Linked DNA regions of Homo sapiens: all the other regions are linked to region 2. The links come from fine-mapping of genetic effects on gene expression. A gene starts in region 2. Each other region holds a variant in brackets. All regions are shown on one strand. Distances are between the middles of the regions. Region 1 has its middle 110 kb from the start of PLAAT1. Region 2 holds the start of PLAAT1 (phospholipase A and acyltransferase 1). Region 3 overlaps ATP13A4 (ATPase 13A4).

Region 1 (10,735 bases), 110 kb after region 2:
AATATATATATATGTGTGTGTGTGTGTGTGTGTGTGTGTGTGTTTGTGTGTGTGTGTCTGTGTGTATGCCTATGTATATATATAGTGTTGGGAACTCAGAAGACCCCTTCAATCCACAAACTTGCATTCTTTCTTCTGGGAAATTCATTGCATAATCTTGTCTTAATTTCCTCTCCTCCATTTTATGTTTGTTTTTCCTGAAACGCCTGTCATTTGGACAATGAAACCACTAATGTGATATTTTACATTTCTGATCTTTCCTCCACATTTTACATTTCTTTTTGTTCTCCTCTCTGAGAGACTTACTTAACTTTGTCTCTCAACTCTCTTTTGAATTTTTTATTTCTGCTATCAAATTTTAATTCACAAATGTTCTTTCTTATACTCTCTGTATTCCTTTTTTAGAACTTCCTTTTTTTTCCTGGATGCAATCTCTCATCCATCTCCTCTGCTTCTTTCACTCTCTGAATGTTGATGTACTCAAGACTCGGCCCTCAGATCTCTTCTTTTCTCTACCCACATTTTCTTCTTATGTAGTCTTATTTACTTCCATAGCTTTAAATATCATTTATATGTTGGTTACTCCAGCCTTTCCTAGTACACTGTATAAAATAGCTCTCCGTAACCACTGTCATCTGCCCCATCACTCTCCATTTCCTTCCTTTCCTGTATTTTCTTCATTGTTCTTATTGCTATGCAACATGGTTCTAGTATGTTGTCTATAGTATATACAATTAGCACAGTGGAGTATACATTATATAAACTCCATAAGGAAGTATATTTGTCTATTTTGTTAAATGTTATAATTCTAATACTAGAATAGAATTTGTCACCATGTTTCACAAATTTTTTTGAGTGAATAAATATCTCTGAGAATATGAAGTCAGCTTTTAAAGTGTCTCCTTTCATTTTTTAAACTGTTTCTCTTTCCTCATTTCCCTTTTGCTATAGGTTATTTAAATACAAATGTAGGCTTTTCTTTAATCCCTAGATATTTTTGGCCATTCATATAATAATAATAATTATCATCATCATCATCAAAAATACAGATTGGAAGTGATGAACATGAAGAGAATATTTATTGCCTGGTAGGCTTCACTGTAATGTGATCAGGCAGGAATTTTGCCATTTTGTTAGGAACCTCAAATGTCAGGATCTGGGTTCTTTTCTATTAGGCCAATCCATTAACCCACAACAATTTTCCATTTTATCTTCCTGGAGGTATAACTAGGGTTGCTATTCACCATGTATTCAATGCTATGACCATTGCAGTTTTCAAAATATTGACACACACAACAGAAGCCCCAGGCCCCCCATTTCATCACTGTCTAGCAATAGCAAGTATAGCTGGGAGCCAGTAGGTCTACTGGGACCCTGCTCTAGTACTATTACCAGCGTCAGTGACTATGATATACTGATTACCATGTTCCACACGTATCTAAGCCACTTCTCCATCATCCAGAAAGAGGACGGATGTTCACAGTCGCTGTGCCTATTCACCCTTCATGCTCTTATTTAAAGGGTACCCTGCTCACACTTGTCCTTTGTTAAACTTGGTGTCTCTGAGCCTAGAGCCTGTATGTTCTGTCATCTTTGAAAGGAAAACCTCCAGTATTCTAACAAGGAAGGGTAAGTATATGTTGGTTTCTAAATATCCTTTATGAAGACTTTCAACCAATCTTTTTCTAGCCCAAATCTGTACCTCTGTCTTCAAAAATTCCTAGCATCTCTCACAATAGAAACGTCTTAGAGTTTTGCAGTGTGAATAGACCGGCTTCCTGTTCATTTACTCAATCCATTCTGATTTATGTTTCAGCTTTTTCTGCCTTTCTAAGTCAGAAACTCATCCTTGTGCTTTCTAGATACCTCAAATTTAGCTATCGTTGCCTTCTTTCCAATTCTATTTGTCTGTTTAGGTTTAAACTTTAAGTTTTTTTTCTTTGCTGTCTTTTCTTATTAAATTGGGTTTCAGGAGAGAGTGGAGATAGATGAGTGTGTTCAATCCACTACCGCAACTGTAAATTTTGACCAATAAATTTCACCAACTAGATCCTAACTCAGCCATCTGTTGGTCTTATATATGAGAAATACTGCATGGCCAACATCTAAAAATAATGAACATGAATATTTCTGCTAAAAAAAATTACATTTACACACATATACACATATGCATATATTCATTTTAACTCCATAGGAGAAAGAGTTTTCCATGTCAACCTATAGATATGCCCAGGGTTCTCTTTTGAAGAGATTTGATCATCAGCTTGATTCTAAACAGATTTCATGGAATTGAACAAAGAAGGGCATGTTCTGATTCTTTTAGGGCTTGTTTAAGAGCATGAAGTCCCTGCTATTCTAAGCAATTTCTTTCTAGAATTTCTACTAAATTGTTTATATTTGGACCATTTGTTGCCAGAGAACTGCAATTCAAAATAAAAGGATATCTATGTGGTAGATATTTGTTTAGATCTTGATGTCCTGTCAATTGCATTTGCTTGATTTTCCCTTCCTTTTTAGCAAGCATGGATTTTTCTGACTGATTGAACTAAGTATAAATGAGTCCTTTTGGCCCAAAAACTAAAATAAAGCTTATTGGATTGGAAACCTAACGTACCCAGCCTTAGGAGTATGCTAGCTGCCCAGAGAAAAAGTCTTCGAATAGATTTTTAAGAATGGTATAAGAATAATTTTGAACTTCATAAACTTTTTTTAAAGACTTGAAATAAATAAACAAAAAAGTAATGGCCTTTAAAACACATGGCTGTGACAGAGTTTGAAAAAAATATATTATTAGGAAAACTCAAGAGGTGGAATATGAAAAAAATGTTACATTTTTGGCCAACCAGCATATTAACTCCTCTAACCCTATGATCAGGGGGAATTCCTACCTCATAAATTTTGAAGGGAAGCAGAGCCAGCCTTTGACTATATAAGCCAACAAGGGCATATTATAAATTTCCCAGCCTCCTTTGCAGCTAGAATATGAACACACAATCTAGGTTAGCCAATCATGTTCACCCACATGATAATTTGAATCAGGAGCCAGTGATGCAAGAACGCAGGGCTTAGGGAGAATTTATTTTATTGGCAGCAGTGGCAGGGTGTCTAGGGGCTGTATCCAGAATCTAGTAACCACAGTGAAGATGGTATTCAGTGTCATCTGTGGCCATCATGGCAGCAGCATCCTCATCAGACTTAATTCCTCCTTCCATTCTCTCTCTCTCTGTATGTATAATGAGCTCCTTTTCTGCTGAAATCAGATCGATTCAATTTCTCTTGCTTAAAACCAAAAACACTGACGAATACTAAAACACTGACTCAGCTCTAACAATCCTTTTAAATTACAAATAACATTTCCATTGGAAAGGTTGGAGTTACTCAAAAAGAAATGGAGTGAGCTATATTAGAAACTGAACTTGGAGGATTTTGAACGGGTTGGCCTATGTTTCCCTTCCTTTTGTTCTTCAGCATAAAATTCTGCATTCTTAACAATGTTCAAATTCCCTTTGTCTCAGAATATTTTACAGTCTCCATTTAGAGGGTATAGTTAGAAGTGCTTTAGCATTTTTTGTAATACTAGGGTTTGATGGACATAAGTGAAGCAATATATTCTTGGCTTCAATGTAGAAAAACCAGGAAGATTCATTTATGTTTTTTTCGGATATGATGCCAAACATCCACAAGAAGATTCACAGATCAAAATGAGACCCCCCAAAGACAGCAATCTTCAAACTGGCCATCCCTTAAGGTTGCATTTACAGGCTTGCTCTTTCTCTTTTCTGTGTCCTCAGCTGCTTGTCATGAGATGTAGATTATTGTGGTAGATAGAATAAAATGCACTGGAAAGGAATATAAAGGATATTAAAATATAGGCAATGGCTTCCGTAAATCTCTGTGAAAGCTTACTCCTTAGAGCTGTGCTTGAAACATTGAACTGCCTACTCCCATGATGCTCAGTCCACTCTAAAATTAATAAAATCTGATAAGACCATATAAACTAACTAGTCACTGGTACCCAGGGAGTTGACAACTCAACTTATTGTCTAACTGCTGTGTGTAATGAGAAGAAAGTTTAACATGTTGGCCAAGTGCACAGACTTCAGAACCAGGCACCTTGCTCATTCCTGCCTTGCCTCCTGCTAGCTGTCTGACCCAAATAACTCATTGATCTCTCTGAACTAGTTTTCTTACCTATAAAAATGTCCTTAAAAATAACCAGTTTATAGTATTTGAGTATTAATGAAAAAATATTTATGTCACTGTAAACATGCCTAACACATATTAATAGTAAGAATACACTAAATTACAGCAATCACTATTATGATCAACAGACTCACTCTTGGTCCCTAGTCTTCGGCATCTTCTATTGGTTAGGTCTCTGGCTGGCTCTCCTCATGAGTCAGCTGCAGGAATCTGTCATGCCTTATGTTTTGTGTTTTGGCAATGACTCACTTTACTACTTGGCTCTGTCGTCTACCAGTGATACACATGCTCCCTTCATTCTTAAACACGTCCAGTCCCACATGGCCGGTTTCCATTTCTATGTCAAGTAGAATCTAAGTGTTATGACAGTCTGCATTAATGGCAACAACAAACTAAAACGTGTCATTCCTGTCACTCTTCACTGGTGACAACCCTTTACTTGTGTAGCTTCTTACAAATGTCATTCATCCTATTACAGCAAAGCCAGAGAACCAATAGAAGTCCAGCCTGGACAGAGTCAGGCACTGTATCCCTATCCACATGGAAAGACTACACATTGCCATTTTTGCTTCTGGCCCATTGAACCAATCCACTTACTCAAGCATCACAAAACTTTAAGTTTCCAAGGTACACTGTAAATAACAGCCGATATGCAAATCAATTGCTTAGGGTGTCCTCTTATTTATACCCAGCTGCTTTTGTTTTGATATTACCTTCACCCGACCTCAGGCTTGGCATCCTTGGCTCCTATGGATTTGTTTTCTCTGATATTTAGTTCTCAGATTTCTCATGTTGATTTTCTTTTGGCCCACTCTCCTGGCCCTAGGCATTTCTATTAGGTAAAAATCCTCCGTTTTAGTTTAGGCTTCACAGAAAACATAATCCCTGTTTTAAGTCATAGAGTGTGTGGCAGTAAAGAACATCATTCTAGAAATTCATTTACCTAGGTTCAGCCCTATTTTTTTTCACTTTCGAGCTATG[G/TGG]CCTTGGTCAAGTGCCTTAAACCACCGGAATCTCCATATTTCATTTGAAAATTGGTGTTTATATTGCTAAAACTATCATGAGAGGATCAAATGAGATACATAAAATTTTTTAAAAGTGCTTTCTAAACTACAAGGGTATTATTAACTACTCAACAGTAAAATAAAAGATAGCTCATAAAAGGTCAGCAGGTAATAAAAGGAGCTATAATCTCCCTTGTCCAAAATAAAGATCCATTTTTCTTAAGATGCATTTCTTCAGTTAAGCCCTAAAGCCAACACTTTAAAGCAAATAAAAACAACAATCTTTAGGGTCAGAAAAATTAAAATATTTGCCACTTTTTTTCTTCACATTATCTATTATGAGCTTTTAAGCTTTTATAACTTAAAAGAAATTATTAACATGAAAATTGTAAATTACCTCTTGCCAAATTAGACTGGTGAAGATGTGGGATTTTTGTTATATTTCTGCATATAAAATACATTTTCTTCTTCTTAAGAAAACATGTTTTACAGAAGTCTTCCTTTTGTCATATCCCTGATGACACAAAGCAGAGCGGTTTCCTTCATACAGGTTGAGTAATGGGCAGGTGCAGTTCTCATGAAATGAGATTGCTTTGCTGTTGATAAAATAATACATCGGGTCACCTCATGCCTGGAAAACTTACACCAGGACTGAATAAAAGAAATGGGCCTCTATTTGCATGTGAGGAAGTTTGAGATGTGAAGGTCAACTTGTGTTCATTTAAGACTGCTATCTGATATCTGGATTTCCAAGGCAGGACCTGTGGCACACTTACAAGATGAAACTAAACCCTTCCTTCAGGAACTAAGAAAGAAAATATTTCAGTATTAACATCTGAGGTTCCCTGTAAGACACAATTCTCAAAGCCTAAGGTAAGAATTGATTCAACTGAGAATCAAAATGTCTTCTAATTATCCTGTTTGATAGAAAAACAGAGCAATTAAGGGATTGATCCAGTTACATGATGTACACACACCCAACAGTTACATAGCTAACTTGACATTCGCTGCTCAGTCCCAGAGTCTTTGTTCTTTCCAAAACCCTTTTCCACATCTCTTCAGGCAATTTGATTCATCATAAATTGTACTGTTGCCAACATTCCCTGAACATTTGCTTTTTTTTCCACTATGAAATTAACTCAGATTTAACAGATGAATGCTTGAGCTAGCTCTGCTCTGTGTACATGTGTGTTGACTGTGAAGTGGTTCTGCCACTGCTGGATGTCATCTCTAGGCACTGTGCTGCGATCCGTGTGTCCTCAATCTGGACGATGGAGGAGAGAGTGTGGGATCCTTTGGTCACAGGTCTTAGAGGCTTAACAGAGATGGCCAATCAGCTTTATCCTCCCATGCCTACTCCAACAATTGATGGTAGCTCCTGGAATGTTATGAGAGGGATTTTGAGATTGGGTCCAGACTTGGTAGGAAAAAGTGTAGTGATCAATTAGCAATGCTGACTGTGGGGCTCAGGAATAAGGAAAGCTGCACCTGTGCCATGTATTTCCCTTCCCTAGGAGCACTCAGGTCCTTGAGTGCAGCAAACCCATCTGCCTAGGGAAGCAGCATGATAATTCCTTGAGGCAGAAGGTTCAAGCCGGAAGAGGGCAAGATTTAGAATGTGAGGCATTTACATGGCACTTCACCTTTTACAAAGTGTTTTCCCCCACATTATTTCCTCCCATCCCTACCCATGGGGCAGATGTCAATTTTATCTTCATTTTGCAGCAGAGGGATTTAAAGCTAAGGGAATAAAAATGGTAGCCTAAGGTCCCACATGGGTCATAAATGTCAGACTCACTACCTAAACCAGACTTCCTGCTTCTAAGTCTTGTGCTGGAGGGTAGTGAGTCAATCAAGCACTAAGTTTCCCCTAGAGTCAAAGGATGAGGCCGAACATTTGGAATGGATTTGTGTAGCCTGTGAAGCACATCTGGATTTCAACACAGAAGCACAGCACACACACTCAAATCAAGTACGGGCACACTCATCCTTTTTTTCTTCCTTTTCAGGCAGGCTTCTTTGTGAAAGCATTAGAATGGTTGTCATCACACACACATAGAAGAGGCAAAGAGTTGTTGCTAAATAAAATATAATGCACCTTATTTAAAATGGCTTATCCTGCTTTATTTGTAAATTGATGTTAATCCGACTACTTAGTCTGATATCCTTAAGCAACATTAATGCCTTTGCTACCTGTCTTCTGCAGCATAAAAAATGAGGTGGCTGTTTTGGAAAGAATTAACTTCTTTCTTGAGGGCAAAAGGCTAAACTCCTTCCTGAAGATTCTTGCCAATGATTCTAATTAGGACATACAGATGTATGTACCTAATGCAAATGAAGCCATGGACCACAGAAGTTTAATGATTTGGGGGAAAGTTTGGGTACAATAAACTCCCTTCACAATTTTGCACCAATGTCACCCAAAACTCTTGCTCTTTTGAAATAAAGAAGATATTAAGAATTTCCCCATTTCCAAAGCTTAGGATCATATGTAGGAGAATGGCTAAAACTTACATGAGCAATTTTTAACGTTCACAGTGATTTTGCCTGTATTAAATCTCAGTATCAAAATAGTCTATGAGATAAATATCATTTTTTCTCACTTTTCAGGTGAGAGAACCAATGTACATAGAAGCAAAGGAATGACTTGTCCTACGAAAAATAGCCAATTTAAAATTCAAATCTGGCATTCTTCCCCCTGTTGTTTCACTTATAGCAACCTCTCCACAGAAGTAAATACCACCTTACATGTGTATAGCACTTCACAGTTTATAAATTCTTGTCATTCAAATATTTTAATTCATGGATTTGCTACTTTAATTCAAATGTTTATTCACCATCTACAATGTACCTGCCAGACATTATTTTAGGTACAAGTGGTATAAGGTCTCTGCTGTATTCGTGTTTATATTATTAGTTGGAGGGAGACAACTAAAGAACAAGTAAGCAAACAAATTAGAATAAATTCAAATGGTGATAATTAGTACCAAGAAAATAAAACAGGATAATGTGGTGGTCTATGACCAGTTGGTGGTAGGAATGAAATGTACCAGTGTGAAACATTTGGTGGGGTGAATAGAAAAACCTTCTTTGAATAAAAGATGTTATATGAGCTGAGAGCAAGATGGGAAAGAGAAAGCAGAGGGTGTTAGGGGGAAAGCATTTCAGTCCCGATGTGGGAGAGAGGTTGATATTTGAGCACTAGAAAGAAGGCCTGTGTAACAGGAAGTGAATGAGCAAAGGGAGAGAAACACAAGAGGAGACTGAAGAGATAAGCACAGGCTATGACAGAAGGGTCTTTTAGGTCATTTGTTAGAATTACACCCCAATTTTTATGGAATGACTTTGCAGAGTTTTTAGAAAATTTAATTCCCACAATAATCTGTTATGTTTGTTTAACAAATTAGAAAACTTGGAGATTTACCTAAGGATACACAACTAATAAACAGCAAGACTCCAGTCTTTAGGATCCTAGACTAGGCTTACTTCCTCATATCCGAAAGGAAAAAATGGAAACAAACTCACAAAGGAGGAATACAGTACAGCATCACGTGACTATCCCATGCGTATAATGGGTGAATTTCCTCGGGCAGACAGAGGGCTCACTTATTATGGGAAGTCTTATGACTGTTTGGCTCCAGCTGGAAGGAGATACTAAATTTCTGAAGGACTTTTGGCTTAAATTTAAGACAAATATTTTATTAGAGTTACCATTGAATATTTAGCATTATTGAATTTCTCCCAGAGTCTAATTTGTTTGACAGATTGTTTTGGGAAAGTAGCCAGTGAATGCCCAAGACTAGGGGATGAAGAACAATCACAATCATCAAGCAACAAGCTTTGCGTTACTTCTCTTTCCACCTTTGCCTCCCACTCCACACTGCTGATCAATGGGTGGTAACCCATGCATGTGGCTAAGATAGAAATAGTCCTTCCAGCACATAACCTGAAATCCAGCTCATTCATTCATCACCCATAATATCACTGCAGCCCATCCTTCCGTCTACCTCTTCAAGGCAAATTGCTTGAGATTAATCATTCATTCATTCATTCATTCATTCATTCAGAGCATCTACTGTGTTATGGACTGAGTTCTTGTGAGGTGTTGGGTATGTGAATGTCATGCAGTCTGAGACCTTACAGCTTTCACAACCCAGTGGTCTCTCAGACTTACCACCTCTTATGACTCCTTTTGTTCTCATTGTTCCCTTTAACTTGAGTCCACCTGCACAAAAGTATTACAGTTGAAGAAAAAGTTGCTTTGGACATTACCCTATCCTCCTAAGAATGTTACTAGCTGCCATTCAAGCTTTATGACCCTCATAGGCATCAGGGAAAGAATACAGATATGGCCCTTAATTGTCTGATTTCTGTGTGCTAAGGAACAGCCTGTACTTATTATCTTCCATTATTTTTAGCTAATACCCCCACATCCTCATTTTCGAAAATCTTTCCTCTAAAATTGGTTTCCCTTCTTTGTCTTGCCTAACCTGCTTCCCAGCACCTCTGTGGCTTTTGTCCAGAAGAGGGCGAGATCACCTTTGCTACTTAGAATTCATCTCGCTCTTTTTTTTATTTTTGCAATTAAATATGATTCATTGGTCTCTTGGTCGCTTAGCTTTCTCTCCTGAAGGAGAAAGTCAAAGTCCTTGATATTTCTCCAACAAAATTTATATTATGGGTATTTGTATTGCATTATGTGATTTTTAAGAGGACTAGCAAGAAGCTCTAAAATGGCGAATAATGAATTATAGCTGAATAGGAGAAACCTGTGAACAGTTAGGACTGATGATCACTGTAACCTTTCCCATGCTTGTGCAATTATGTTTTGCTAATATATAGACTCTTAGAATGCTATATTTCAGGGAACCTTAGAAATTATCTGGAAATGTCATCATGCTGTGTTAAGGAAACTGAGGCATAGAGAAAAAATAACTTACCTGCTAGAACTACTATGACTTTAAACTGCAGAAAAAGATAATCATTCCATATACATAAAAAATTTAATAAGGGGATGCTTGTAAGAATATTATCCGGGCTTATCATTCTCAGCAAAGGAACACAGCAACAGAAAACCAAACACCACATGTTCTCACTCATAAGTGGGAGTTGAACAATGAGAACACATGGACACAGGGAGGGGAACTTCATACAACGGGGCCTCTAGTGGGGTGGGGAACAAGTGGAGGGAGAGAACAAATACCTAAAGCATGCAGGGTTTAATAGCTAGATGACGGGTTGATAGGTGCAGGAAACCACCATGGCACGTGTATACCTATATAACAAACCTGCACGTTCTGCACATGTATCCCAGAACTTAAAGTAAAATTTAAAAAAATAAAGGAAGAAGCATGAATCTTCCCACTCACATGATAAAAAAAAAAGAATATTACCTGGGTTTTTCTTGCCATCACAAGCTTTATCACTCATTTCCCCCGGATCATCCTGTATCCAGAGTGATAGCTCTCCCCTCCTCTGCCTCCTTTACCTAGACCGTATGACAATGGGGAGGTTCCATACCATTTGTACT
Region 2 (10,735 bases):
AATGTGGTACATATACACATTGAAATAACTATACAGCCTTTTAAAAAAGGAAATTTCGTCATTAGTGACAACATGGATGGAACTGAGGAACACTGTGCTAAGTGAAATAAGCCAGAAACGTAAGAGAAATACAGTATGATCTCACGTGTGAAATCTAAAAACGCTGACCTCATAGAAATAGAGTACAGAGGTCATTACCAGAGGCTAAAGGGAAGAGAGAGAAATGAGGAAAGGGAAGAAGTGGATCAAAGGGTAAAAAGTTTCAGTTAGACTGAAGAAGTAGGTTTTAGTGATTTATTGCACTGCATGTTGACCACACATAATAATGTACTGCATATTTCAAGACTGTTAAAACAGATTTTTAACATTCTCACCACCACAAAAAATAATAAATTGGTGAGATGATGTATATGTGCTATGGTTTGAATGTTTGTCTCCTCCAAAATGCATGTTGAAACTGAATGTCTAATGTGGTAGTATTGAGAAGTGGGGCAGGCCTTGAAGAGGTGGTTGGATCAGGAGAGCTCTGTCCTCATGAATGGATTAATCTATTCATGGATTACTGGATTAAGGAGTTCATGGATTAAAGGATTATCATGGGAAGGGAACTAGTGGCTTTATCACAGGAAGAGAGACCTAAGCTAGCAAGGTAGCATACTCAGCCCCCTTACCATGTGATACTCTGTACCACCTTGGGACTCTGCAGAGTCTCCACCAACAAGAAGGCTCTCACAAGAAGTGGTCCCTTGACCTTGGATTTCTCAGCCTCCATAACTATAAGAAATACATTAATTTTCTTTATAAATTACTTAGTTTTTGGCATTCTGTTATAAATCTGTTATAACAGAAAATGAACTAATACATTAGTTTGATTATTTCTATAATGTATGGATAGATTAAAACATCACGTTGTACCCCATAAATATAAATCATTGTCAATTTAAAAAAAAAAAACAAAATGAGATATCATTATACATCTAACAGAATAGCTAAAATAAAAAACAGTGACAACATCAAATGTTGACAATGATGCAGAGTCATCATTGTCATTAACTGGATCACTCATTCACTGCTGGTGGGAATGTGTAGCTACTCTGGAAGCAGTCTGGCAACTTCCTTAAAAGTTTAGCTTGTAACTACTATATAATCCAGCAACTGTACTTCTAGGCATTTACCCCTGAGAATAAAGACAATGAAGATTTATAGCCACCCAAAAACCTGCACACAAAAGCTTATAGCAGCTTTATTCATCATATCCCAAAAGTGGAAACAACCAAGATGACCTTCAAAGGGTGGTTAAAAAAATTAAAAAATAAAAAACTGTGTGCAGGCCTACCATGGAATACTACTTAGGAATAAAGGAAAAAACTATTGACATATGCGACAACCTGAATGTACCTCTAGAGAATTATACTTAGTGGAAAAAATAAAAACACACAATGCCAAAGGGTCACACACTATATCATTCCATTTTTATAACATTCTTGAAATGATACAATTATTTAAAAAGATAGTGAACACACAGTGGTTGCTATGAGTTAAGGAAGTGGAGGAGGCAGTGGGAGGGAAGTAGGTGTGGCTATAAAAGGCCAACAAGTGGGATTCTAGTGGTGACAGGTTGTTCTGTTAGACTGCGAGCTGATTATTGTGGTGACCATTTTACAGATGAGGAAACTGAGACTCAGATGAGTTAAGTGCCAGACCTAAAGTCGCACAGGTAGTAAGCGACACAACTGGAATTCAATTTCAGGTGTCCCTTCTTATTCCAGAGTTCATGCTCCTTTTTTATACCATTGATTAACATCATTAACCAAAGGAATTTCTACTAAGCAACATTTCATTTTTTCCCCTTCTCAAATACTATTAGATGGAGCAGCTGCAAAAGCATGCAAATACATATTTCATATAACACCACAGGAAGTTTTTAAATATTCATATGCAGAACCAGAAGATAATGTGAAGTGGAACCTCGCTCCAGAATCCCTGCACCTTTCCAGTTGCGGAGTTTCCGGGTGAGGTTAGAATATCTCTAAGGTGCCCAGGCTCAGATTTTAGGCAAATATCTGTAACCTGTCTGATTGGGTAAGTTTTACATGGACCACATCTACCAATTTCATTCAGACAAATTGTGTAATGCAGTGCTTCATAAGTATGAGAAAACACAGAACCAATTAAAGACACATTTATAACATCCTCTACTACAATCTTTAAGGTAAAAAAATGCTTCATTTTGAGTCCATCTGCAAAGAACTGTATGAACAGTTTATAATAAAGAGTGGCATGAAGGTTAAGTCTGTAATCTTTGTATAAGAAATTTCCCATTTCAACTGGCCAACTGGCAAAACAGGCTGCTGTCTTTATAGCTCTCTGTTGGTCCCTGGGGATGCATCAAAATAAATAAATGTTCCCTGCCGATAGGGACAGGCTGAACGTCTGCTCATGCCTAAGAGGCCACCCAAGTTACAGAAACACGAAGAGCACTTTTTTAACAACTACTCCCAAGAATGTTACTGGAAGTCTGAAACACAATCGCAGGTGATCACAGGCTACCCCTGGCCCAAGGCTTCTAATTAGGTTTCGACCTTTTCCCATTCCAGCTGCACTTTCCATCCATAATCCTCCTACACTGTGATGTTTCCATGAAGCCCTGTATTCCCAGATTGGCTAATTCATAGACTCTCAGTGCTGCAAAGATCCTTGGTCCAACACTCTCACGCTACAAAGGAGGGTTCCACTCCTTGGCCAAATTAACTATCCGCTGCCACAGCACTGTCATGCCTTGCTTGGAATCTTCCAGGGCTTCCCACCACTGACTCCCCATCTTGGTCCCCCGCCCTAGAATCCTGGCATCCTTATTAATCTCTACATTCTAGGCAAATCAAACTATCCATTATTCTTCCCACTCAAGAGTATTGTTTTGTTTTTGTTAATACTGAACCTTCTACCCAGAATGCCCATTTCCAAGTGCCCCAAATGACTCAATCTTAAAAAATCCAAGTCGATGCCACCTTCTCCCCCTCTCTCCTCCACTCCCCAGGTCGGATTGTCTTCCTCCGATCCGCCTTCTTTAGCTTCCACAGGCATCCATCTAATGGCCCATTCACTTCCTACACCTGCCTCAGCTACTGGTCTCTGGGAAATTGTCTCTTGTGGGGCATACGCTATGGAGGGATGCTTCTTGTTTTTCTCTATACCATGCGTCCGATCTTTTGGCTTCCCTGAGCCACACTGGGAGAACTGTCTTGGGCCACACATAAAATACACTAACTCTAATGATAGCTGATGAGAAAAAAAAAAAAAGCGCAAAAAAAAAACCTCTCATAATGTTTTAAGAACATTTACAAATTTGTGTTGGGCGGCATTCAAAGCTGTCCTGGGCCGCACGCGGTTAGTGAGCCACGGGTTGGACAAGCTTGCTCTATACCTTCAGTCTCCGGTGAGAGTGCCTCGCACAAGTAACTGCGGAGCAAATGTTCATTGAATGAAGGAATGAGGAATCCAAGCCCAGAGAAAACATGAGTGACTTTTTCCAGCACGAGTCATATTAATAGTCTCGCATGCCAAAGGAATATCACCATCCAACTTTCCAAAATCCAATACGATAATAATTACTTGTATTATTATTCATATTCACTTCAGTGAGGACAGTAGGCTTAAAAAGCCTTAAACAGGTTGGGTTTCTAGTCCCAGCTCTGCCACTTAATAGCTGTGTAACCTAGGGAAGAAAGTCTCTTGCCCTGTGGACTGAGTTCCCCAGTCTGTGAAAAAGAGGAGGGTGGATAAGCTCCGTTGTTCTCTAGTCATGTCAACTTTTCCCACTTGCCAGTTGGTTAGAACACGGTTGGTTGCCGGGGCGCCTCGAGGTCCTCCCCCACTCCGCCCAGCACACCTCACTCTCAAGCCGGGGTCTTCTTCTCGCACCGGGAGGCAGCTGTGTGTGTCCTGGGGTCTCTCTTGGCCTCGCAGCTGCCGACCTTGCCGCCGGCGGCCGCGGGACGACTCCATCTGTACCCGGGAGACACCCGGGAGGCAGGCGCCAGCCATCACTCGGGGCCGTCCTCCAGGGCCAACGCCAGCACCAGCGCCGCCACGCTGAAACGGTCCCGGCGGCCCCTCCGCGGCTCTGAGACGCCCGCACGCCGGGGGGCCGACGCGCTGGGCTCGGCGTCCGGGCGCTGCCGAGCCGGCACGAGGCTCTGACCATGGGGAGCCGCCCGCTCCGCCCAGGAGGCGGGGCACAGTCGCTCCGGCTAGACCTCGCTTGGCCCCGAGCCCAGCTTCGCCCGCCCGCCCGCCCGCCCGCCGGGGAACTGCACCTTCTCGCGCCCCGACGCAGCCGCCTCCGCGCGCGCACGCAACGCACGCGCTCCAGCGCCTACGGTCAAAGCGCCGCGCAACCAGTTATTCCGCCCCCGGCTCCGCACCCGCGTCTCGGACGTTCCCGCAGCCAACGTTTAGGGCACCAGGCGCTGTGCTAGGCGCCGCGGTTATAAAGATAATCGGTTTTGTTGAGCCCAGGAATGTTCGGGTACACCCATCATGAGTACACCCACTCTTCTAGCCTAACAAAAATTCCCTTAGGGCCCAAGGAATCATGGTACCTGCACCCCAAGAAAGCCTCTGGGTCTTTGAGTCAGCAAAGTGGCGGAGGAAGGACTGGCCCTAAAACAACCTCACTGCTTACACACACCACACCACACACACACACACGCCAGATAGCCAGCAGAGACCTCCAACCACACACACACACACACACACACACACACACGCCAGATAGCCAGCACAGACCTCCAGACCCCGCCCCGCCCCCCTCCCCCGGCCCCCCTCCGCCCCCACGCGCCAAATAGCCAGCAGAGACCTCCAGGATATGGCTGTGAGTTTAAAAATAAAGCTGGGGCAGGGAGAGTATCCTTTTTCTCACTGCTAAAAAAAGAGGCCAGGAATACTAACCTAGCTAAGTAAGGAACCCTTGAAGACTAAGTGAACTTTATGGAGCGCTGCACAGGACGTTGCTTCAACCTAGTCATAACTTAGATTTTTATTCTGATGTAAATGGAATCTCAGCTAAAAGGATTTTTTCCCACTTATTTGAAGGCTAAAAAATATCTCGCTAATTTTATGTATTTTGTCATAATGGGATAACAACTACCTAAATATGCAACTTTTTTCGTAAAGCTATTGGGTTGTGTTATGAAGGTTAAGGGTGAATCTGAGTGATCTGAAACTTTGGGTCTGGATTGGCACCTTTGGAAACAGTCCACAGAAGGACATTGAAAACGTAATTATTGACAAAGTGGAAACTAGAACACTTGAGAAGTTGTAGCTTTTTTTATGCATTAATATTTTCTTACATGTTCCTTAATATATATCCAGAGTTATAAGCTGAATCAGATATGCCTTTCAATACCCTTTTAATGTCTCAAAGAGAAAGCCATAAACATGCATTTGCTTTATGTTTCTCAACTATTTCGATGGAGTCATCACTGTAGGAAGTGGTTCATGATTTTATACAGGAGAGGTATTGTGAGCATTTATAAAGCCATCCTGCTTATGAGCCAAATTTATTATGTTTGCTAGGTTAATCTGTTTTCTCTAATCAAACACTTAATCATCCAGTCTCCTCTCTGCGTTATGGATTCATGAATGTGAAGTGAGGAGAGTTGCTCAGTCAAGGTAAAATGATAAATTATCTTTTCATTTTCAGGGTATTTGTGATTAAATGCTTCATAATAGAATTAAAATGAAATAAATCTTGTAATTTCACTTCTAGATTCCTGCCAGGTATAGATAAAACGCATTTGGTTAAGAACAAATTCAATTCAATGCCTGCGTGGAATTTATAGGAGAAATGTAGAAAGCGTTGTAGTTCAGGAGAGCCCTGAGTTCTCTCTTCATTTCTATGGATTGGAGAGAGAGTTGATCAATCGGTGGTACTCTACGGATGAGCAGTGGAAAATTAAAATTTCCATTAAGAAAGAATGAGGACTTAGCCTTGGGCAGTAATAGGCAAAGTTTGTCTTAATCTAGAGTTGTAATCTGGGGCTATGATTGGAGCAGATGTTAAATTACACTTAAATAAACAGTTCCTATTATTTTGGCCATTATAAGTGAAGCCCTGTGTGGCTGGCATTCTCTGTTGCTGCCTAATTTTATAGTAAGAGTTGAAACATATTGAAAAAAGCATAATGGAGATGACTTAGTCCTGTTTGTTGTTGAGTGAATAAAGTTCACATTCCAGAAAAAGCCCTATAAGGTAACAAAAATTACAATTGGCTTTTTAACACATGGAAACTCAAACCAATTGGCATTGTGTGATATTAGACAGAGGCCTCAAACAACCCTATATGTTTTGTGCATATTTTACAATTAGCAAAGCGCTTTGATTCTGTTGTCTCATTTGATCCTCTCAGCAAACTTGTGACTGCTCAGTCCTGGCAGTTGGTGTGAGGCCTGAGATGTGGAGCTCTGTATTCCAGTTCTCCTGGGGTAGAACTGAAGTCAGGCCTCTTAGGCAAGAGCTCTTCCCCTACCCAGACTCCCTCTTTTATCAGACAGCAAAAGAAAAACCTTTTTTTTAATAGGTTTTCAAAACCACAAAAATAAAAGAGCTGCACAAATAACTGAAATATTTGCCAAGATAATGCAGAGATGGTTGGCTACGTTTTATGTGAGCTAGTAAGAGTTGAGACAATCATTCCAATAGTTCCAACCTCAGCCCCTAAAATCTATGCTGTAAAAGTAAAAGCTTTTTTCTTGACTTGAATGTCCAGGCCACCTGCCTGCTCAGACTGGATTTTTTTCCTGTACAAATTACTTAACCCTCTAATTCAATCTGCTTTGTGTATTTCTGGTCAATATCATTGCAACTGAAAATCTGTTTGCTTACAGGTTTTTCACGTACTGCACATCCAAGCTAGGTAATGTCTCTGCAACTGCTGCTTCCTGATGATTATATTCATCTGAAATGACTAAGCTTGGTAAATTAGGCTAAGTCAAGTCTGTGGAGCAGTCAAGGGACGAATGAAGAAAAGAATAATGTAATGGAGGCTACACCAGAGACATGGGAATCTATCAGCATGTGGCAAGGAAGGAAGAACATAGCTATGTCTTCTATATAAAGAGTTGCCTGCATTCTTCTCAGAAAAAAAAAGACAATGGAAAGGCAATGAGTCATGAGTCTTGGGTTCTAAGCCTGGTTCTACCATTTGCTAGCTGTATGATAAGAAGCATGTTTGTTAAACCTCTGAGCCTCAGCTTATATATATACGAAACAGGAAAAATAGTAACATAGCCTGCCATCTTCACAGATTTGTGAAAAGGTCTTTTAAATATCCAAAAAGCTTAGTATGTATAAGAAAGATTAAATTGGCTGGGCGCGGTGGCTCACGCCTGTAATCCCAGCACTTTGGGAGGCCGAGGCGGGCGGATCACAAGGTCAGGAGATCGAGACCATCTTGGCTAACACGGTGAAACCCCGTCTCTACTAAAAATACAAAAAATTAGCCGGGCGCGGTGGCGGGCGCCTGTAGTCCCAGCTACTCGGGAGGCTGAGGCAGGAGAATGGCGTGAACCTGGGAGGCGGAGCTTGCAGTGAGCCGAGATTGCGCCACTGCAATCCGGCCTGGGCTAAACAGCGGGACTCCGTCTCAAAAAAAAAAAAAAAAAAAAAAAAAAGAAAGATTAAATTTAAGCTATGGGTATGACACAAAAATATACTTGAAAATTATTCTTAAATTTCACCATATTTAGGAAGTGGCTAAATATCAACATAATATTCCTACTTCTGCATTTCCTATTTCTCTCTTTGCATTTTAAATTCAGAGGAAGTTATCTCATTTATTAATTGTAACATTTAAATAGTATACATTTCTGTCATTTAAAAGTGGTACTGACAATGTAGTTAAACCTTTATTATCTTTTATTGGTTTAATAAATAAAAGTGCATGACTAAAAACAGGCCACAAATATCAATGATTTTGGGGATTTCGCCCTACAGGAAAATCATACAATGCATTTGGAAAAAGGTAATTCTGACTTGTCCTCTACGAAATGCTAAATTTCTGCACAAAAGCTTAAAGCACAAGTGTTTACAGGATTCTTGGTGACAAGAAAAGTGATAGTAAATGTGCTTTAGCACTAAAATTCATGTATCCATGGAAACCTGTGAAGTTCTGTAAGCACACACACACGGCCTGCGGTATTTATTGAAGAGCTAAGACAGCGATCAGTGGGTTACTATGCTGTGAAAAGCCGACAGATTGCTGGGAGCTGCTATGCACAGGCATGGATGAGGTTGTTTTTCCCCTGCTAAATGTAATTACAGAGGAATTCAGAAGTCTCAGATATTACTGAGAAAAAAAAAACATGTTTATTTATTTATATGTACTTGTACCTTTCAGAATACAGTGTCCTTTTTTTACAGTGTCAGATTTTTTAGTCAGGAAAGCCTTGAAAAGTCATCAGCATTTCCCTTTCCCACACATTTGTAGCCATAGTCAAAAACTCTCTAGTAGATTTTCCATGTGTGCAAAGAAAGATATTTCTTGGATGTTAGGAGAGAATGCCCCCAGTTTTTTCCAAACTGATTATTCCTGGGTATTTAAATATGTTTCTTATCAGTGTTTCGTAACGTATAATGATTGTGAAAGCAAAGAGCATGATGATATTTGGGGGAAAGAATCGCCTACAAATATCTGAAGTGTTTATTTAACCACAGACTGATACTCTAATAAAATAAAGAAGTAATGCTATTTCATAAAGGCATATTCATATGGCATTCTTTTATTAAAACATACATCTCATCTCGTTTAATCCTTACATCAATCTCAATGAGTACTATTATGCCCACATTCTCTTCCATTGCCAAGTCCTGGATTCTTTCTCAAATCTTATTCTAAACTTTAATAACTTGGAAATGGTCTGTGTTTGGGTTGAAACAGAGGTAAAATTATTGAGTTCTTAAACGTACTTCATGTTTTATTCCCACAGTTTTCCTTTAAAGTTTTTTTTTGTGTTTGGTCTTCTAAAGATGGACTGTTCAATAGGAGAGCCATTAGCCACATGTGATTACTGAACACTTAGGGGCTCACGTGAAATAATATTTGAATATATTGATTTGAATAGTAAATGCTAATTTCAGCTGTTTTAAAAATTGTTTTAATATGCTTACTAAAATATTTTAAAATATATATGTGGCTAGCATTATATTTCTACTGGACAGCACTGCTATTATCCAGAGCATTCAAAAGGGGTCTCTTTTTAAAAATCATTTAGTATATGCCAGAGTTTCTCAGTCTTGCAACTGACTTGCCATACTTTTCACCAGAAACAATGAGATTAGTTCACACTGATTGTTTTCACCTAAAAGAAGTGCTTTAAGTTATCTTCTTTTTGTGGACCAGGTTTCTCTTCTTTTCTCCCATGCAATTCTCCGGCAAAATCCAAGTAAGCAAATCAACCTTGTTTTGTTGTTGTTGTTTGTTTGTTTGTTTGTTTTTGAGCTCTCTGGGCCTCAATATTTGTTTATTCTAATGTATTTTTAATGGAGTTTAATAATTAAGTAAATTATGTAGATAAACCCTCGTGCAAGAGTTTGTAATGATCCAAGACTCTGGTGATTTAGTTTTAACTCATAAGACTGGGGGAAAAAAAAGAGAGCACATTGAAGAAATAATAGTTTGCTTCCAGTTGTATTAGGAATACTTTCAGCTGCAAGTAAGAGAAGACCACATTAATAATAGTGGCTTAAACAACAGAGGTTTATTTTTCTCATATATTAAGAAGTCTGAAGATAGGCCCTTGCTGGATTGATACTTTGCATCAAATCCCTCAGAAAAACTTGTTGCTTTAACCTTTAAAATATATCTAGAATCCAGCCTTTCTCCCTACCTCCATCACTTCCACTTGTGTCCAGAAACTCTTCTTTTAGTAACATTTTTCTAGCTTATCTGTTTTCTTCCTTGTTCTCATTTAACATTTTCTATATCCAGCAGCCAGAAAGGTTCTGTTAAAATTTTATAGCATGGGCTGGGCACTGTGGCTCACACCTGTAATCCCAGCACTTTGGAAGGCCAAGGTGGATGGATCACCTGAGGTCAGGAGTTCGAGACCAGCCTAACCAACATGGTGAAACCCTGTCTCTACTAAATACAAAAATTAGCCAGGCATGGTGGCACTCGTCTGTAATCCCGGCTACTTGGGAGACTGAGGCAGGACAATAGCTTGAACCCGGGAGGCAGAGGTTGCAGTGAGCCAAGATTGTGCCATTCCACTCCAGCCTGGGCAACAGGAGCCTAATCCCATCTCAAAAAAAAAAAATGTATAGCATGTTGCTCCCCTGCTCAAAATCTTCCAATAATTTCGTATGTCTTTCAAAATAAAATCTAAAATCATTACTATAGCTTCCAGGCCTCTAGAAGATCTGAACCTTGGTGAACTCTAATCTCATTCCCTTCATTTTCCCTGTTGTTCACTCAGTACTTGCCACTCTGGTCTTCTTGCTACTTCTTGAATATGCTGAGTCGTGCCTTCCTTCAGGGTCTTTGCATATGCTGTATCCTCTTCCTGGAGCATTCTGCTCCCCTCTCCAATATCTGCATGATTTACTCTCTCATTTTCTTTATGTCTCTCAAATGTGATTTTATCAGTTAGATATTCCTTTATAAACCTATATACAATATCACCCCATCACTTTTCAGCTCCCTTACCCTGCTTCATTGTTTTAACAATAGCTCTA
Region 3 (10,735 bases), 160 kb before region 2:
GTGAATTAAATTAAGTATTCATGGAAATAAGTAGGCTTTGCCCACTGGTCTTCTAAGTCAGTTAAAACTTCTTAATCCTACAGAAGTTAAGGATGAGATGTGGTGAGTTGAATGTCACTTTTTAATAGAAGAAGATTCTTACAGAAAGGCTGGGTCCTCTGGTATAACAAAATAGGGAACATATTTAATTTGGAGAGAACCTGGGTAGGGTCATTGCCAGCATGACTGCAAAGGATTCTGCAAAGAATTATTGTTCACTTTTAAAACAATTATTTTTCTTATTATTACATAAAAATATGTGTTCTTTTTAGAAAATGTAGAATGTGCGGGCAAGGAAAATTATAACATTATTCACTATATTCTTCCTTCTTTTACAATTCATATACTATAAATGTGTTGATTAATTTTTAGTTTTTTTTAAAAGGATGGAATCATGTTGTTTTGCAACCTAGAAACTGCTTACTTAAAAATTTATAAATTATTTTAATGGGGAACACATTCATTTGGTTCACAATTCAAATGTTTAAAAAGCCATATAGTGACAATCCCCATCCCATCTTAGATTCCCCGTTACCAGTTCCTCTCCCTGGAGGTAACCAATGACACTAGTTTATTTTACATACTTTGGGACATATTTTGTATATTCTTCTTCCACATTTTTACATAAACAGTAGAAAACTATTATATTTGTTCAGGTCTTCTGAGATGTAGATGACAAGTTGAGTTTAGTTATGCAAGAGATTTGCTGGAGGAAATTCTCGGGGTAGGGGTAAGGGAATAGAAAGCCAGAGGAAGTGGGGAGAGGCATCACACTGTGATGTGGGTTTATCCTCTAAAACGAAGGGAGGGAAGAAGGAGGGCTAGATGTGTAGCATCTCAGACTGCAGTACACTTCTAAGAAAGTCAGGCCAAAGTTGCCCATCAGGAGTTTCTACGTCTCGTAGGAATGAGTCTGATGAGAATCCGTGGTGTCCTCATTTCTTGGCTATGTGCAGCTTATGACTTTAGATATGCTTTACAGTGGATGTGGTGGTGGATTCTGAGCATAACAGTTGGGGTATCCACCATTTATCCTCCCAGCAGCAGAAGATCTGAGTGGAAAATTTTCATGGCTGCTACAACACATACATTGTCCTGCACCTTGCTTCTTTCATATAACAGCATTAATTGTTCCATATCAGTACATACATTTTCCTCATTCTTTTTAATGCTAATATAATATTTTATGTAAATGCATATTATGTATATGTCATATGTATACCATGCTTTATATGTAGTCCCATATTGATAGACATTTAAGATGTTTCCAAGTTTTTATTACAAACAAAGCTGCAATAAAAATATTGTGCATATATCATTTTAGCCATGTACAAGTATATTTCTCAGATAAATTCCTAGAAGTGGATTTGAATTTTTAACTTTGAGAACACTGTCCTCTATGGAACTGTTTCAGTTTTTACTCCCACTAACGTATGAGGCAATGCATAAGTCAGTGCCAGATACAATGGGATGCCCTTGGCACTTTTTCATTCATTAATTCACCCATTGATTCACTCATTCACCATACATATATATCAGGCATGTGCCTGGAAGGGGTTGGGGAAGACACAGAGAAAATGGGCAAAGGGACAGGTCATGACAAGCTTGATTTCAGCTCCATTTGCTCCTTTGGCAAGGGCCCTTGTGAGGGCACACTGTGCAGCTGGATGCACAGTCCTGAGGGTGAAGCCCTGAGCCAGTGCTAAAGGCAGGGCTTGGCTGGGGAGAGACGGGACACCAGGGAGAAGAGGGCAATGCTGCCCAGTTGTGAAGGTTTGACATGGGTACCATCAGGCCTCCTGGGGATAAAGCCACATTCCTGCCTCCCTTTTGAAAACAAAACAAAGCAAGCAAACAAAGAGTGATTTTCCTCTTCTTTTCTAATTGCAAAGTGACCAAAGTTATTTTAGGAAATTTAGAAATCATAGAGAAACACACACACATCACAAGAAGAAAAAAAGATAAAAGAAGAAAAGCAACACTCATAACCCCCCCAAATCATTAGGATCATAAGTATAACCTTTCCGTACTTTTTCTGTGCATACAAGCATAGAAATTTTTTATATATATAAGATATATGTAATATACACACATATATATTACATATGAGATTTATAACCTAGGAAAATATATGCTGTGAACATGTGAGCATGTTTCCAGCATCTGCGTGTCTTCAGACTAACTGTGCTTCATCATCTCCCGCCAGCTGCTCTGCACTCCCGTCCTGTGGAGGGCCTCCATTGTCATCATGCTCAGCTTGAATTTCATTGTGTCCCTTGTGGCCGAGGTAAGTGTGCTGATCTTGGGCTGCTGATCTTGTGTGTGTGCACGCATGTGTGTAGGGGGACTTCTTTGGGACTCTGAAAACAACAACTTTAGCTGACATGGACTCAGCAGTGCAGGGGCTCCCTTCCTTCACAGTATAAGCAATGGTGCCTTCCTCTGATGAGTCCCAAGCAGGACGTTAGTTTTCTCATCTGTCAAGTAGGGCGGGGGAGAATGGAATTATGGTCTCTAAGGTCCTGTTCATTTCTACAATTTCCAAATAAAGACCCAACACAATTTACTTTTTAAAATTGAGATATGATTCACGCACCATAACATTCACCCTTTTAAAGTCCACAATTCAGTAGTGTTTAGTGCACTCACTGAGTTGTACAGCCATTAACGCTACTTAATTGCAGGACATTTTCATCATCGCTAAAGAAATCCTGTACCTACTAGCCGTTGCTCTTCATTGCCCCTTCTGCCTTCTCCTGGGCCTTGGTAATCACTATTCTACTTTCTGACTGTGTGGATTTGACTTTTCTGGACATTTCATATAAGTGAAACCATACAATATGTGGCCTTTTGTGTGTGGCTTCTTTCACTTAACTCATATCATTTTTGCCTTGCGGATGGGAAATAACATTCATAGTGAGCTTTTCCGGCTTTCATTCTCCAGCTTCCATTTGCTCCATTTTCTAGCTTTTATTCTTCAGCTCCCCTGTGCTCCATTTCCTCAGTGAAATGAGCTTGTGCTCCTGCTTTCTTTCTCCACGTGATTCACGCTCTCCCTGCTCAGTACTACCAGACACAATATCCATTCTTCAAAGCCTGTTGGTAGGCAGGGGTGCCCTGAAAAGGCATTTATGAACAAAGGAGAGGTGAGATGCAGAATTCCATCTGTCTCTATTTCTGCTCTGGGATACAGAACTAGAATTATTCCTGCAAATGGAGTGTTCATGGTGAGCTGTGAGAACCTACAGCCTGACTTCCCTGCAGTATTGTGTAGGCAGGACCTCAATGAGCTCTCCCTGCTTACTCCTATGCAGAGTGAAGGCTGCACAGGAGCTGGTGGCAGAACAGGACACAGAATTTCAGTACTGGAACTTCTCTCTATATGCTAAACAAGAGCTTCTCAAACTTGAGTGGGCATCAGAATCACCTGGGAGGCTTATTAAAACACACGTTGCCCAGCCCTACCCGCAGTGTGTCTGATTCAGTAGGCCTGGAAGAAGTGCAAAAGTTAGCATTTCTAACAGGTTGTCAGGGGATTCTGATGAGACTAGTTCAGGGATCACACTTTGAGAAGCAATATGCTAAACCATATGGTCTCTAAAGCAACCAGATTAATAAAAGAGCATTATCACGGGTGTCCTCAGACCCAGTGGCAGAATGATGGTCTTTGCCCTTTAGAGGGGGATCTAGTGTATACATCTTATCCCTGTTCGTGATCACAGGATTCTCTCTGTGTGGTGTATGTTTCCTCCATTTCCGCATATTAAAGTGCTATTCCATCCTCTACAGCACAGCTGTAGTAGTATCCTCTTCATGTATCTTTCCTGATCTCTGGATCAGGTAGGCAAGTAACGACTTAACTAACAGTGGCTTAAATAATAAAGATGTTTATTGACTCAAGAAGAAGACTGAAGGTAGGTGGCTTCAGGACTGGCTTAGTAACTCAGTAGTGTCACTGGGAATCCACACTCTTTCACCTTTCTCTTCTACTCTCCTTCGATGTGGTCTTTCATGTTTGTGCACGTGATTATGGTGTCCAGATAGCTTCCACAGAGCCGGACTTTACATCTGTTTTCAGTGCAGGAAGAAAATGGAAGGAGAGGCCACAGCAAGCCTATTTCCAGCAAGTCTGAACCTTTTCTTGAGAAACAAACTTTTCCTGAAGCTCACCAGCAGACTTCCTTTTATGCTTTATCGATTACACTTGTGTCTCATGGTCATCATGAGTAGAAAAAGATTCTGGGAAAGTGGATCCATGTCAAAAGTTAGACAATTTGGCTTAGACCACTTATTATCATTATTTTTCCCTTTTAGGTGGGAAGGGAAGAGTTGGGAGGGAATGGGCTGTATGGTAATGAAGTATCAAAGTCTTCCTTAATCCTCTAGCAGGAAGTTCTTCCTTTTTCAGCATATTTGCAGTTAAGAGCACAAGCTCGGGGTAATCTACGTGGGTGGGTTCGAATCCTGGCTCCACCACTTTCTTGCTCTCTGACTTTGGGCAAATTATTCCACTTATCTAATCTCTGATCAGCCCTGAAAACAAACAGGTTTGAGCAGGACCTTATCCTTACTATGCCAGTGCTCATGATCGAACCTCCAGCTGAGAGGCATGAGAGGTAGTGTGGATAGCTTTAATTGCCCCCACCTTTAAAACAATTATTGATGTGTTTATATAGGTATGCTTGTATGTATGAGTTATTTGAGTAGCCAGTCAGAAGCGCTCATGTGGCGAAATTTTTTTAAAGAAATGTCTCACTAAGGCTTTCGTTTTTTTCTAGTTGTATTTTAGTCCATTCTCCCACTGCTGTGAACAAATACCTGAAACGGGGTAATTTATGAAGGAAAGAGGTTTAATTGGCTCATGGTTTTGCAGGCTGTACCAGAAGCATGGCTGGAGAGGCCCCAAGAAACTTTCAATCATGGCGGAAAGCAAAGGGGAAGCAGGCAGGTCTTACATGGCCCGAGCAGGAGGAAGAGAGAGAAGGGGAAGGTGCTACACACTTTTAAACAATCAGATCTCATGAGAACTCACTCACTATCACGAAAACAGCAAGAAGGAAATCCATCCCTACGACCCAGTCACCTCCCATCCAGCCCTTCCTGCAACATTGGGGATTATATTTCAGCACGAGATTTGGATGGAAATACAAATTCAGATCATGTCACTAGTTCTGCCTTGTATTTATAATGTGCGGTAACAGGACAGATCACCTCTCTGTAGTTTCCTCTTCCAGAGCAGCAAGGTGATACAGGTCATCAGAGTCCAGAACTAAAAAACACTGAAGGCAAGATGTAGAGATGGAGAGCACCAAAGTTTCTCTCTCTGTGTGTGTGTGTGTGTGGTTTCATCTATTTTGTTTTAAGGTTTGCTAAGGTTTCCTTGAAGTAAGTAAGATTTTAAAACCTTTACTCGATGCTCCTGCCTTATCCCAGCTCTAAGAAGAACTACTGTTTTCACGTCAATTAAGGAGGACAAAAAAACCTTGCTGCAGGAAAGTAGAATAACTCATCTGGCTAAGTTTCCAAGAGGCTGAGACGGTTATATGGATCTTTAACAGCCCCGCAGCCAGCAGATGGTCAGTTATCACAGGAATAATGCAGACTGGCTGTTCTCTATCCTTTCATGGGCAGTGGAACCTAAATGGCAAAAATGGGTAGATTTTAGGAAAACTACTATATCTGGCAAAGTTCCTTATAGAATCTCACAGAATTAACTCTTTCAAATTAGCAAAGATAGACATGAAAATCAGTTCTAATTCTGTGGGACAGTTTCACGTCCCATATTTTTTCTTTGTTTCTTTCACAATAACCTCTAAGATGGTCAATCTTTGTGAGCAAACATGATAAAAGTGGAAAATTAATATGATAACCTCTCATGAATTATAAGTTATAACTTGGGCTCTATTCAAGGCTCACTCTAACTCATGAAATAAAATGGCATTGCAAAATGTTTTCAAAGAGACATGTCTTTTGTAATCTTAATACTGTATTTCAGTGAAGGTGAAGGTTAGAGGCATGTGTGAACAGGACCACAGTGCATAGCCATTTGTTAAATGAGTAGTTCCAAAGGGTAGGCAAAGGGAGAGAGCTATGCCCTGCCCTGCCCTGCATTGTAAAGGGAGTTATATAAGCCTTACAACAAACATAAGGAAGGGATTATTCTAATCACGGAGACATGGATAGAGTAACTAATTTGCCCATAATAGGTGTCAGAACTGGGACCTAAATCCAGATCTGTTCAACTCCAAGACTGGCCCGTGTGAAATTAAATATGCAGTGATATGTCAGGATATATCAAAAACATGTCATACATGGGCCACATCTTTATATAGGGTCAATTGTGTTTAGTATTTAGTAGTAATTTTAATGTCATTTTATATTAAACAAAATATAGATGTGCTATAGAGTGAAACATAGAATTTGAATGATTTTAAATTCAATTTAGATGTGAGATTCAAAAGAAACTTCATTTTTGAGGCAAGCCATTTCAAGTTATGTTCCCAGAGTCTTGAAATGTTGTACCTCTTACTTCTCCCACAGGAGTTACTTAAGTAGAAACGTTTGAGAAACCAATACCTGTCCAATGAAACCACCTTAGATTGGTCCAGTGGTCAAGCTCTTTGTCAAGCTGGATCTAAGCAACCATTGCAGTAGTGACTTAT[G/A]ATGGCCTGTGGAGGGCTGTAGCCTCAAAACACTCAACCCTTGCTTGTAAAAAGTAATTATTTTATTTTGCAGGAGGCTGTTATTGAAAATCGAGCCCTGTGGATGATGATTAAAAGATGTTTCGGCTATCAGTCAAAAAGCCAGTATCGGATATGGCAGAGGGACTTGGCAAATGACCCTAGTTGGCCCCCGCTAAACCAAACCTCCCACTCTGACATGCCGGAGTGTGGCAGAGGAGTGTCTTACAGCAATCCAGTATTTGAGAGCAATGAAGAACAACTCTGAAGGACATGTGATATCCAAGTTGATATTACAGAGAAACAATGACAAAAGGGACCAGTTTCATTGATTTTAAGAAATGAGACTCTTGTAACATCAGCTGGAGTTTTGGGGCTACCTATCAAATCATGGTGACAAACTAAAGTCTGTTTGATAAAATACTGTCTACAGAGAAGAACATTGACCCAGAAGAGTGCTTTCCTCTTGGCTTCTGAAGGTATTAGAGGCATTCAGTGAAGGCAAGAATGGGCCAAGAATTTCTATGGGCCAAGAGACAAGCAGGCTAAAGGGGAAAAATATGTGATCTTTCCTCTTAGGACAGGACAATACTTTCCTTTTTATAAAAATGAGTTGAGGGGAAGTAGTACTGTGTATACTCACGGAGTTGTAATTTTTGAATTTTTACTTCATCGATGGAAAAACTAATGCGTGGGAAACATTACACCAATCTTTACTGTCTGGGTTCCTTTTCTCTGTAGTACTTTTCAGATTTGAGGCTTTTTCTTCTGTTTCTGGCCTTACCCAACATATTGTTAAGGATAAGCTTAGCCTATGCTGCAATAAAAAACAACTCTCAGATATCAGTGCCTTAACACACAAGTGCTTCTTTCGTGATCCAGGTGACACTCTGGAACTGCCATTCTTACAGCAGTGACTGCTTCAACCTGATGGCTCCATCAGCTCGATGCAAGGACTGTGTGTTGACTGTGATGGGGGAAGGAATAGACTGGAGATCACGTGTGGGCTCTTCACTGCCTCACCCCAAAAGTGGCACACATTGCTTTCCCTACTCATATCTCATTAGTCAAGGATTTGGCCAGGGAGCTGGAAAGTGCAGTCTCCTGTGTTTAGGGATGCTTCATGGGCTTATGAGCTGTCACTACACAGGGCCCCATGCTTAGAAGGTCCCCACACTTGGCTTTAACACTCTGCTGTTTCCATCTTAAAATTCTTAATTTTTGAACAGGGGTCCCCATATTTTCATTTTGTACCAGGCCCCACAAATGATAGAGTTGGTCTGGAACGTAGTCCTGGGAAGGAGAGGAAAATAACAGATCAGAAAGCACGAGTGCTGTCCACTACAGCCCACTTTTCCTAACCCCAGTAACTTATCCTATGTTTTAGGAATCTCTCATGTCACATGGCCAACTCCAGAAATTTTCACTCCTCTGCTTTATTATTTTTGAGAAACATTAGTCTCATGCTACAGCATTATATGGCACTATTGATGGGAGTTCTTACACAACTAGTACATTTTTTTTTTAAAGTTTGTGGCTTGAGTTTCCAGAAAACTAAAATTGTCCTTATTTTGTCACTATTACAATTTGGTTATATTTGATTTGTTCAGCACAAGGAAGACTCAGGTTTCTGTTACCTCAGGAGACAACACTGAACTCTAGGAGCACACCTACATATAATATTTTAAGGCAAAAGCAAAATTTGTATTATGAGCATCAAATCCTAGGTGAATGTTCTGATCAGGGGATAAGTGTCCTGGCCCAGGCTGGCTTTGGAACTTATCAATAGCATTTGCAAGCATTCCTTCCCCCTAACTGAGCTCTTGAGCATGGCTGATGGCTCTATGATTGCAGCTGATTCTAGGAACATGGTGTCTCCCAGCCATGAGGGTACCCTGTTACTTCTGGTTTTAAAATAGGGCGTGAAGATATTTTAGTGTTTCAAGACTGCAGAATCACTGTCTTTTTTGGTACAGAAAGAAATGTTTCCTTTTGCAAAGCCAGCCTCAGCAATGATATGGCAGTTCTGAATGTCCTTCTCTAAAAGTGTTTCTCATTTTCCAAAAGTAGAGGGTTGTAGGCAGGGGCAAGCTAGAGATGGTCTGTGACCTAGTCATGAGCAAGATCAGCCTGCACAGTTCATACTTAAATGTGCCCTTTGCTAAGTGCATTCACCTCCACTAACTCACCTGAATGGTACCAATTGTCCCATGACTGAACAAGGAAGGGCTTATCATCTCCACCATACAGATGAGAAAGCTGAGATTCAGTAATGGCAAGAGCAGATCTAGGCCTCAAATACAGATCTTCTGAGCAAACCTTATATTGCTGCCAAATACTTCCAAATTCCAGAGTTCCAGCAGGGCAGGTTGCTTAGTGTGATCTCACAGTCAAGCAAAGAATGGGCAACCCTTTGCTAATACCAGGCCCTCTGTTCAAATGAATGCCAGGCATCCTGCCAGGCCTGGGCTAGAGGTGTATTAAAAACAAAACAAAACAAAACAAAAAAATGATTGTCTGTCTTTCTGAGACTTTGAGTTGCTCTTGCCTTGATCCTAAGTGATTCTATCACTAGCAAAGGCTGGCAGGGAACAGGAAGAAAAGAATCTAGTCCTCCACTAGTCAAGCAGCCATAAAATCTTTGGGAAAAGAGACTCATTTTGAAGACTGTATTCCTGGGATTAACTACATCTTAGAAGCAGTAATTGAAGGAACAGGGAGTGCCCAGCCTGGAAAGAAAACAGTCAGGGGACTGTGAAGGGTTTTCCTGAGAAAGAAGGATCCTACTTGTGCCAGGTGGCATGAGAAGGCAAAATCAGGACAAATGGGTAAAGATCACAGTGGGGATGGCTTCAGGCCATCTGCCCTAACCACTGTCCTAACAGCCAGCACTGATAGCAGTGGAATGTACTCTAGGACATTGGAGGAACAAGTGGCTATTCAAGGGCCAAGTAGAGAAGGAAGTCAAGTATCAGATGAAACTCAATTACCTGCAAGATCTCTTTCAAGCTTGATACACCCAGTGTCTCAGTCTTATGCTGTGATGTGAACCTTTTTTTTTTTTTTTTTTTTTTGAGATGGAGTCTCACTCTGTTGCCCAGGCTAGAGTGCAGTGGCACAATCTCGGCTCACTGCCAGCTCCGCCTCCCGGATTCACACCATTCTCCTGCCTCAGCCTCCCAAGTAGCTGGGACTACAGGTCTGCCACCATGCCCGGCTAATTTTTTGTATTTTTAGTAGAGATGGGGTTTCATCATGTTAGCCAGGGTGGTTTCAATCTCCTGACCTCGTGATCCGCCCGCCTCGGCCTCCCAAAGTGCCGGGATTACAGACATGAGCCACCAGATGTGAACTATTTTCTACTACTACCCACACAGAATACCAGACAGACACTCATGGGAGGATGGGCTCTGGAGGGAGGGCTCCCAGCCTTGTCAGATCCGATTGTGTGGACATATAGACTCAATTGCCCTGTACCTTGAAAGGGGACCCCTAATGGAGATAAGATCCTAGGAAAGAGGGGCAGAGTAGGGGTCCTGATTGTCAGATTGAAGCTGGGGTAATACTTCTGATTTGTGAATTTTCTTAAAGAGAGGTGTTAAAAAACTTTGCATGAAAGAGCGTGGGAGAGTGCCCTAAACTTGAGGGCGGAGCAACCTGTTATCAATACACTTTCTTGAGCAGAGTCTGAAGGAGAAACGAACACAGTCACATAGTCCAAATCATTTGAGACGGTGCCCTGTATGTTCATCTCAAGGCATCTAGCTCTTACCCACAGAGAACCGTGACTCTGGGCTTCCCTCACTAAATATGTCTGTGACATCTGTATCCTTATGTGCTTATGGAAATGTTCACATACACACCTGCAGATGTGATGACTGAAAAAAACGATTATTTATTCAGAGCTTTGTATTTAGTTTATGCTATAATAAATTCAGTTGTTATAAAAATCAGTCTCTCTCTCTGCGGTGGAGTCTTTCATTCTGTCTAATGGTGTGGTTTACTCCAGTAATGTT

Evidence for each region. PIP is the estimated chance that this variant, and not a neighbour inherited with it, causes the effect.
Region 1: its variant is fine-mapped to the expression of PLAAT1 in anterior cingulate cortex (GTEx, PIP 0.99).
Region 3: its variant is fine-mapped to the expression of PLAAT1 in whole blood (INTERVAL, PIP above 0.99).

What each region holds. Positions count from the first base shown.
Region 1 is chr3:193,128,797-193,139,531 of GRCh38, reverse strand. No RefSeq gene overlaps it. Among named protein-coding and RNA genes, the nearest start is that of PLAAT1, 110 kb to the left of the region's middle. The variant G/TGG (reference allele first, on the strand shown) is at 5,185.
Region 2 is chr3:193,234,688-193,245,422 of GRCh38, reverse strand. It overlaps PLAAT1 (phospholipase A and acyltransferase 1), which reads right to left and starts at 4,201. Exons shown (of 4, transcript NM_020386.5): 1 at 3,890-4,201. It overlaps MGC2889 (a long non-coding RNA gene), which reads right to left and starts at 3,644. Exons shown (of 1, transcript NR_026877.1): 1 at 1,451-3,644. It overlaps LOC105374280 (a long non-coding RNA gene), which reads left to right and starts at 4,400. Exons shown (of 3, transcript XR_924833.3): 1 at 4,400-4,528; 2 at 5,578-5,673; 3 at 6,889-8,755. RefSeq lists a silencer at 4,050-4,299.
Region 3 is chr3:193,398,904-193,409,638 of GRCh38, reverse strand. ATP13A4 (ATPase 13A4) reads left to right here. Exons shown (of 30, transcript NM_032279.4): 29 at 2,246-2,326; 30 at 6,775-10,672. The coding sequence ends at 6,987. Among named protein-coding and RNA genes, the nearest start is that of ATP13A5, 26 kb to the right of the region's middle. The variant G/A (reference allele first, on the strand shown) is at 6,702.